Linked DNA regions of Homo sapiens. The protein of the gene in region 2 purifies or fractionates together with the protein of the main gene of each other region. This does not show direct contact. Each region holds a gene or a part of one and is shown on either strand. Other genes may lie near its edges.

The links. Proteins that work in one complex are often made in the same cells at the same time.
Region 1: the proteins of CAMK1D (region 2) and MUC7 purify together in Homo sapiens (affinity purification with mass spectrometry; 3 studies listed by BioGRID and IntAct, with this or other methods). This does not show direct contact.

What each region holds. Positions count from the first base shown.
Region 1 is NC_000004.12:70,475,197-70,478,696, reverse strand, and holds part of MUC7 (mucin-7 precursor), read right to left. Parts: intron 1-3,500. UniProt on the Homo sapiens protein: May function in a protective capacity by promoting the clearance of bacteria in the oral cavity and aiding in mastication, speech, and swallowing. Binds P.aeruginosa pili.
Region 2 is NC_000010.11:12,352,547-12,356,046, reverse strand, and holds part of CAMK1D (calcium/calmodulin-dependent protein kinase type 1D), read right to left. Parts: intron 1-3,500. UniProt on the Homo sapiens protein: Calcium/calmodulin-dependent protein kinase that operates in the calcium-triggered CaMKK-CaMK1 signaling cascade and, upon calcium influx, activates CREB-dependent gene transcription, regulates calcium-mediated granulocyte function and respiratory burst and promotes basal dendritic growth of hippocampal neurons.

The DNA.
Region 1 (3,500 bases), on a different chromosome or scaffold from region 2:
CTCACATTCCATGATCTCGGTCTTTCCCTTTCCAGATGGTCTCTGAGGATGTTGCAAAGAATGTCCAGATCTTATAGGAACATGTATGAAACATGCTGCAACAGACCAGCAGTGGAGGTTTGGCTCTGTCCTGTGTCTGCCACTGAATAGCTGAGTGACTTTGGTCAAGTCACTTAATGTGCCTGGATGTCGGCTTATTCATTTATAAAATGATTTGGATTAAATTAAATTCCAGATCCAAAGTCTAATTTTATTTGCTTTGAAATAGTTATGTGGTTCATTCCCTTAATCACATGAGCCTCACGAAGGCCCCTCTTTGATTCACCTCTGTAAGTCCAATACCTAAAACTATGCCTGGCATATGGCAGGTACTCATTAGCTATTAATTGAATGAGTAAATGCATGGAAATGATAACAATAACTAATTTGTTATTGAATAAAGTATTAACATTTAAAAGTGTTTATTCATATGTAAAATAGTTTCAGCTATTTTACTTTAGGTGACCAAAATAATACCTACCACATTTTTATATGAAGGCAAATTGATTAAAATCCTATTAATTTTAATGTTAGCTTGGCCTGGAACATGTATCAAATGACCAGTTTGTTTGATTTACTTAATATATTGATTAGTTATTATGATTGGCAGTTACAGGTGGTTATAACAGAAATTGTAGACTAGAGTTGGATTTAGAGAAGTCTGAGAGAGGAAGGAGTTGAAAATGCATGCCTCTAAAGTTTGAGTTTAGGTGACTGAAGTATGGAGGTCCTTATAATAAATATAGATATGCCAGGGAGGGTGTATTAAAGATAGCAACCCTGCCTGCCTGTTCACATTCATTATTTATTTTTATTAAAAAAGTCTTCATGTAACACTTTATGTTAGGCCCTATTCTGAGTGGTTTACAAATACAAATTTATTTAATTTCTTAGTAATATCATAAGGTGGGTACGGTTATTATCTTCATTATATGGATGGGAAAACTGAGTCTCAGACTAAGTAACTTTTAGGAGAATGTTTCTCCATTTGCAAACTGTACTTTTGAGAGCAGAGAAGAGGGAGAAGACATGAGGAACAAGGATAGAGTAGGCTGGAGTCAAGGGAAGGAGAAGGAGAGACACATGGCACTTGCAGCAAGAAAGGAGGGTATGAGAAAGCAGAAGACTCCTAAAATAACTAGAGGAATGCCAAATTCTCTGAGGAAGGAAGAGGAGGAGAAAATTAGTCAGAAAGGGAGAGAATTAGAAGACAGAAAGGCCAAGATTACATTTTTTACTTTTGTATTTTGAGACAGAGTCTCACTCTGTCACCCAGTTGGAGTGCAGTGGCATGATCTCAGCTCACTGCAACCTACGTCTCCTGGGTTCAAGGGATTCTCCTGCCTCAGCCTCCCTAGAAGCTGGAATTACAGGTGTGTACTGCATGCCTGGCTAATTTTTGTATTCTTAGTAGAGATGGGGGTTTCACCATGTTGGCCAGGCTGGTCTTGAACTCCTGACCTCAGGTGATCTTCCCGCCGCGGCCTCTGAAAGTGCTGGAATTACAGGTGTGAGCCACGGCACCCGGCCCAAGATTACATTTAATTGAAATTAGAAAGCACAATTCATTTCTTCATTTGCTACCAGCTTATTTTTATGACCATTTGAAAATCTGTGATCCTTTTTTAAAGAGAATGAAAGCATTATGCTAAATAATGCTATAGTTGACAGAGCTCTTCATCTGACTCCAGAATACATCCCTTCAAGTCTTTCTTTGGGACATCTGGAAGAGAGAAGCCAGACTATCTGCTCCCTGAAATCACTCCACAAAAGCAGGTTGTTGCTAGAGCTCCAGGACTGACCTTTTCTGGCTGTGGGTTAATGCTAATCTCCGGTACATTCCTGTATTTTCTTTTCTTTTTATTTTTTTTGAGACGGAGTCTCGCTCTGTCACCCAGGCTGAAGTGCAGTGGCACGATCTTGGCTCACTGCAACCTCTGCCTCCCAAGTTCAAGTGATTCTCCTCCATCAGCCTCCCAAGTAGCTGCAATTACAGGTGTGGGCCACCACGCCCAGCTAATTTTTGTATTTTTAGTAGAGACGATGTTTCACCATGTTGGCCAGGCTGGTCTCGAACTCCTGACCTCACATTCCTGTATTTTCTAAGGATCAGGTCAAGGTATTTCTGTGCTACCTTCTCATATTCAAGTTCTTTGGAAACTCTTTCTCTCACCAGGCACTTTTTTGAGATTTGGGCAGCTTGAAGAGTTTTATTTATTCTAAGCACTTGGAAGAAAGGATTCTTTAGGTGTCTGGATTTGAGGGAGTTATGATGAAAGGCCACTTCAAAAGAACAACCCAGATTCATCATTTCACAATAACATGACTTGTGTTGATTGGAAAATTATTTCTTTCAATATAGAGGTGTTGGTAGCCAGGGATTCCTTATTAAAACTTTACTTATTAAAAAGTTAACATCACTGTGCATATTCAGAACTTAAAGCCTTATCAACTAGTATGTAAATTGAGATTACAATAATCTTGTCATAATTTTTATATCTACACTATAGTTTATAATTTATAAATTCTCATTTACCCTTCAGCAGCCCTGTGAAGCATATAGTGTTGTTATTATTTTACACATAGGGAAATTGGGGCCCTATAAATAGATTCTAAATTGCTCAAGATTCATCTGGATGGTAAACATTAGAGATGAGTTTAAGCCCACATCTTCTGAGCCCAGCTTGAACACTCTTCTAGTCACAGAAATCAGCATTAGGGTCCGGGAAAAAGCCTGATTGTTTTCTGGGGGATATTATAAGGTAAGTGAGAAATATGAGAATATCCAAGAGTAAATTCCGTCCACTTCATCAGTTCTTCTGCCCTCTCTCTCTCTACTCTACTGGCGTAATATTCTGAGGCTATCCATCCTCATTCAATAAAAAAGTACATTCCACTTCTTGATTCTTATTTGAAATTTTGTCAAAATAAAATTTAATAAATACTTGCAGGTACATAGCATGAGAGAAAAATATGGTTATTATTACAGCATGTATCACCTTGTAATCACATTATATCATTATTAATTTTAATCTTCCTTTGCCAGTACACCCTAAATTTCTTAAAGATAGAAGGTCCACTTTGTAGTCTTCTCTTGGTTTTGGAAGCCATCCTTTCCTGTCCCCTCTTGTGGGTCCTCCATTTTCTCTATCCATATCTAAACTTCCTACATTTTCTCCCTAGGTGAAAATGTTGTAAGGTTTCATGGCTTCAAGTATGTTTTAAATATAGACTTTACCCCTAGATTTCTTTCTGAACTCCAGACAACATATATCCACTGTTTTCTTGATATCTTGATGTGGAAGTCTAATAGCCATTTCAAATGTAACATGCCCCAAACTAGAACGTTTTTGTTCATTTCTTTCTTTTTTTTTCTTTTGAGACAAAATCTTGCTCTGTCACCCAGGCTGTAGTGCAGTGATGCAATCTCGGCTCACTGCAAACTCTGCCTCCCAGGTTCG
Region 2 (3,500 bases):
CAGGCACTTGCCCTTGTGGCCGCCTTTGACCGGAAGAGTCTACGTTCAGACAGCCCCATGGCTCTTTCCAGGTCTGCATTCAAGCGTCACCTCAAGCTGCCATCACCCCACCCCACACATCCCCTTTGGCTCTTGGTTCCTGCCTAACCTGCAGCTTCTAACGTGCTGTTCCTTTCCCTTCTTTGCCCCTTGTATTTTCTGTGGCTCCAGGAGAGCAGGCATTCTCGTCTGCTCACTGCCGTCTCCTCGGTGCCTAGAATATAGCAGGTGTTCAACCGATATTTTTAAATGTATGAGAGGCTGAATTTATATCACGCCTCAAAACAAGAGGACTGGGGAATCCAAACATCTAAAGAAGACTGCAGCGGGGATACCCTCGGGGAGAAGTCTAGGGGCTTCCCACCCCTCCTTTTTTCTCAGTAATGTTCTTCCTAATGCTTCTCACGGACTCTCAAATTCTAAGTAACCCCAGAAAAACAACTATGAAATTCACCAGTCAAATATACAAACCACCTCGAGTGTTTGTGCATTCTCTCCCCCACCACACACACATACACACGCACGCGCGCGCACACACACACACACGCACACACAAACACATATACACCAAAAAAGAAAAGTTGAGTCTGTTTTCCATCTGGACTTTCAGACAAACCAATCATCTGTGTCCTTAATAGGTGTATTTATTGGGCAATTTCAGAATAAGTAGCATAGTGTGAGATGAGTGGGAAAAGACGGTGCTTGACCCACGGAAGTTTCTATTTATAGTCTTCCTAAAGCAGCATCCAGCAGGCACTCATTTAATGAAAAAGGAGACACACTGCTATTGACACAAAGTGAGATCAGGGTGCTGGTCCTGAGCTCTTATTGTGCTACTAGTACAGTCACAAAAATGTCCCTCCAGAGCTAAGTGCAGTGGCCCGTGCCTGTCATCCCAGCACTTTGGGAGCCCAAAGTAGGAGGATCACTTGAGGCCAGGAGTTTGAGACCAGCCTGGGCAACACAGCAAAACTCTGTCTCTACAAAAAAATAAAAAAGTTAGCCAGGCATGGTGGTGCACACCTGTAGTCCTGGCTACTCTGGAGGTTCAGGAAGGAGAATCACTTGAGCCCAGGAGTGTGAGGCTGCAGTGAGCTATGATCGCACCACCGCACTCCAGCCTGAGTGACAGAGCAAGGCTCTGTCTCAAAAAAAAAAAAAAAAAATTTTCCTCCAAACAGAAATGAGCTGCACCTAGCCACACAAGGAAAGCCCCTCGGGAACAAAAGCAAGTGCCCTCCTTACACAGGGAGCCACAGAATCTTAGGGTTGCAAGGGTACTTGAAAATTTTCTCATCGGCTGGGCGCGGCGGCTCACGTCTGTAATCCCAGCACTTTGGGAGGCCGAGGCAGGCGGATCACGAGGTCAGGAGATCGAGACCGTCTTGGCCAAAATGGTGAAATCCCGTCTCTACTAAAAAATACAAAAAAATTAGCCGGGTGTGGTGGTGCTACTTGGGAGGCTGAGGCAGGGGAATCGCTTGAACCTGGGAGGCGGAGGTTGCGGTGAGCTGAGATCCCGCCACTGCACTCCAGCCTGGTGACAGAGCAAGACTCTATCTCAAAAAAAAAAAAAGAAAAGAAAAGAAAATTATCTCATGTTCCCTGTTCCCCACCCCCAACCTGCCTTGATTTTATAGATGAAGAAACTGAGACAGGGAGAAGGTAATGTAGGTCAATGTCCAAGCAGTCCACAGGCCACAAAACCCCTCATGGCTGAACCAGACCTAAAACCCAGTCTCAAATCCTCCACGATGCCTTGTCCAGCCATCTACAGACAGGAACAACTTCAACTTCAAATGCTCAGTCTACACGAAAAACATGCATTCATATCCCGCGGAGATGAAGATCCATTTTCTAGGGCATGCCATGTTCTGTACTCCAGGGGAAATGAGGTTTGTTGGGAGACTCATTCTGCCACGTGCCAAGTACCCAGGCCTTTCCATTCACATACATTTCACAGCCTGGAAATTGCAGAAGTGACTTCTATGAGTCTAGGGTGCTTCCTAGACACCACACCGAAGCTTTCCTCCCATCCATATACTTCTCCGAATAGTATTTTAGGGGTTTTTTTATTTTTTGCTTCAGTAGTCACTGAAAGATAGCTACGATAGGGACGGCCTGAACAGCCTTGGCAAATACACCAACAGAAATGTGTACCCCTCCTAATTTGCCATTACATAACATTTATTTGTTCTCATAGTGTGCCAAGGGTCTGAAAACATGTTGATTAATAGACAATAATTAAGTCTCACCACCTTATTCAGAGATATGGTTATGTTCTGGGATTCCCTTTTGTAGGAGGCTGCACTGAAGCGCACAGGTTGAAAGGTTTGTCCCTGAGACCTGACTCAGAGGTGCATCAGACAACCCAGGCCAGACCACAAAGCCCAGTCCTTTCTCTTATGCTGCTCTTTGCTTCCTCAATCTCATTTTCCACCCTCCTGGGCCAACCTTCACTCCCATTCGGCCCCCACTCTCCAGCAAGGTCCCTCTAACCATACAGCCTAACCGCCTTGACCCCTTAGCTTCCAACAGTAAATGCTCGGCTCCATGAGGTGAGATACCTGGATAAGGCAGTGGATATCAGATTACAAAGTCTGGCAAAATGAGTGCTCCTCCAGCCTTTGCAATGCTTTATTTTAAATACATGTGAACATTGTGAGCTGACAGCCCTGCTTCTTACAAGGCTTTCCTGCCTTCGTATCTTAAAGACGTAGGGAGAAAGTAGGGCAAACAAAGTGACTGGAACTGCGGCATACTTTGGAAATGAATGCCAGTGGTTAATTGTCGATGCCTTTCATTTGTGTTAGATTTCATTCAAAACAAGAGAAGGGCCCAGACTCAAAATCCCCACTGAAGGGACCAGAAGTCAACTCCACATTAAGACTCGGGCCAGAGTCACCGGTCATGGCCCAGGGTGGAGCAGGCATCTTGAACTGGGGACCACTTCTAGAAAGTACACAGAGGCGGCTGGGCGCAGTAGCTCACGCCTGTAATCCCAGCACTTTGGGAGGCCGAGGCAGGCGGATCATGAGGTCAGGAGATCGAGACCATCCTGGCTAACACGGTGAAACCCCGTCTCTACTAAAAATACAAAAAAATTAGCCAGGCATGGCGGCGGGCGTCTGTAGTCCCAGTTACTCGGGAGGCTGAGACAGGAGAATGGCGTGAACCCATGAGGCAGAGCTTGCAGTGAGCCGAGATTGCGCCACTGCACTCCAGCCTGGGCAACAGAGTGAGACTCCGTCTCAAAAAAAAAAAAAAGAAAGTCCACAGAAGCAAAAGGACGACAATCCAAAAGCTCTGAAATGCTTCCAAGTTTTCCAAGTTTAGATAACATTATGCTATCATTATTGCCATCATTATGTTTTCTCATTTATTTTATTTTATTTTTTTGAGACCGAGTCTCACTCTGTGGCCCAGGCTGGAGGGCAGTGGCGCAATCTCAACTCACTGAA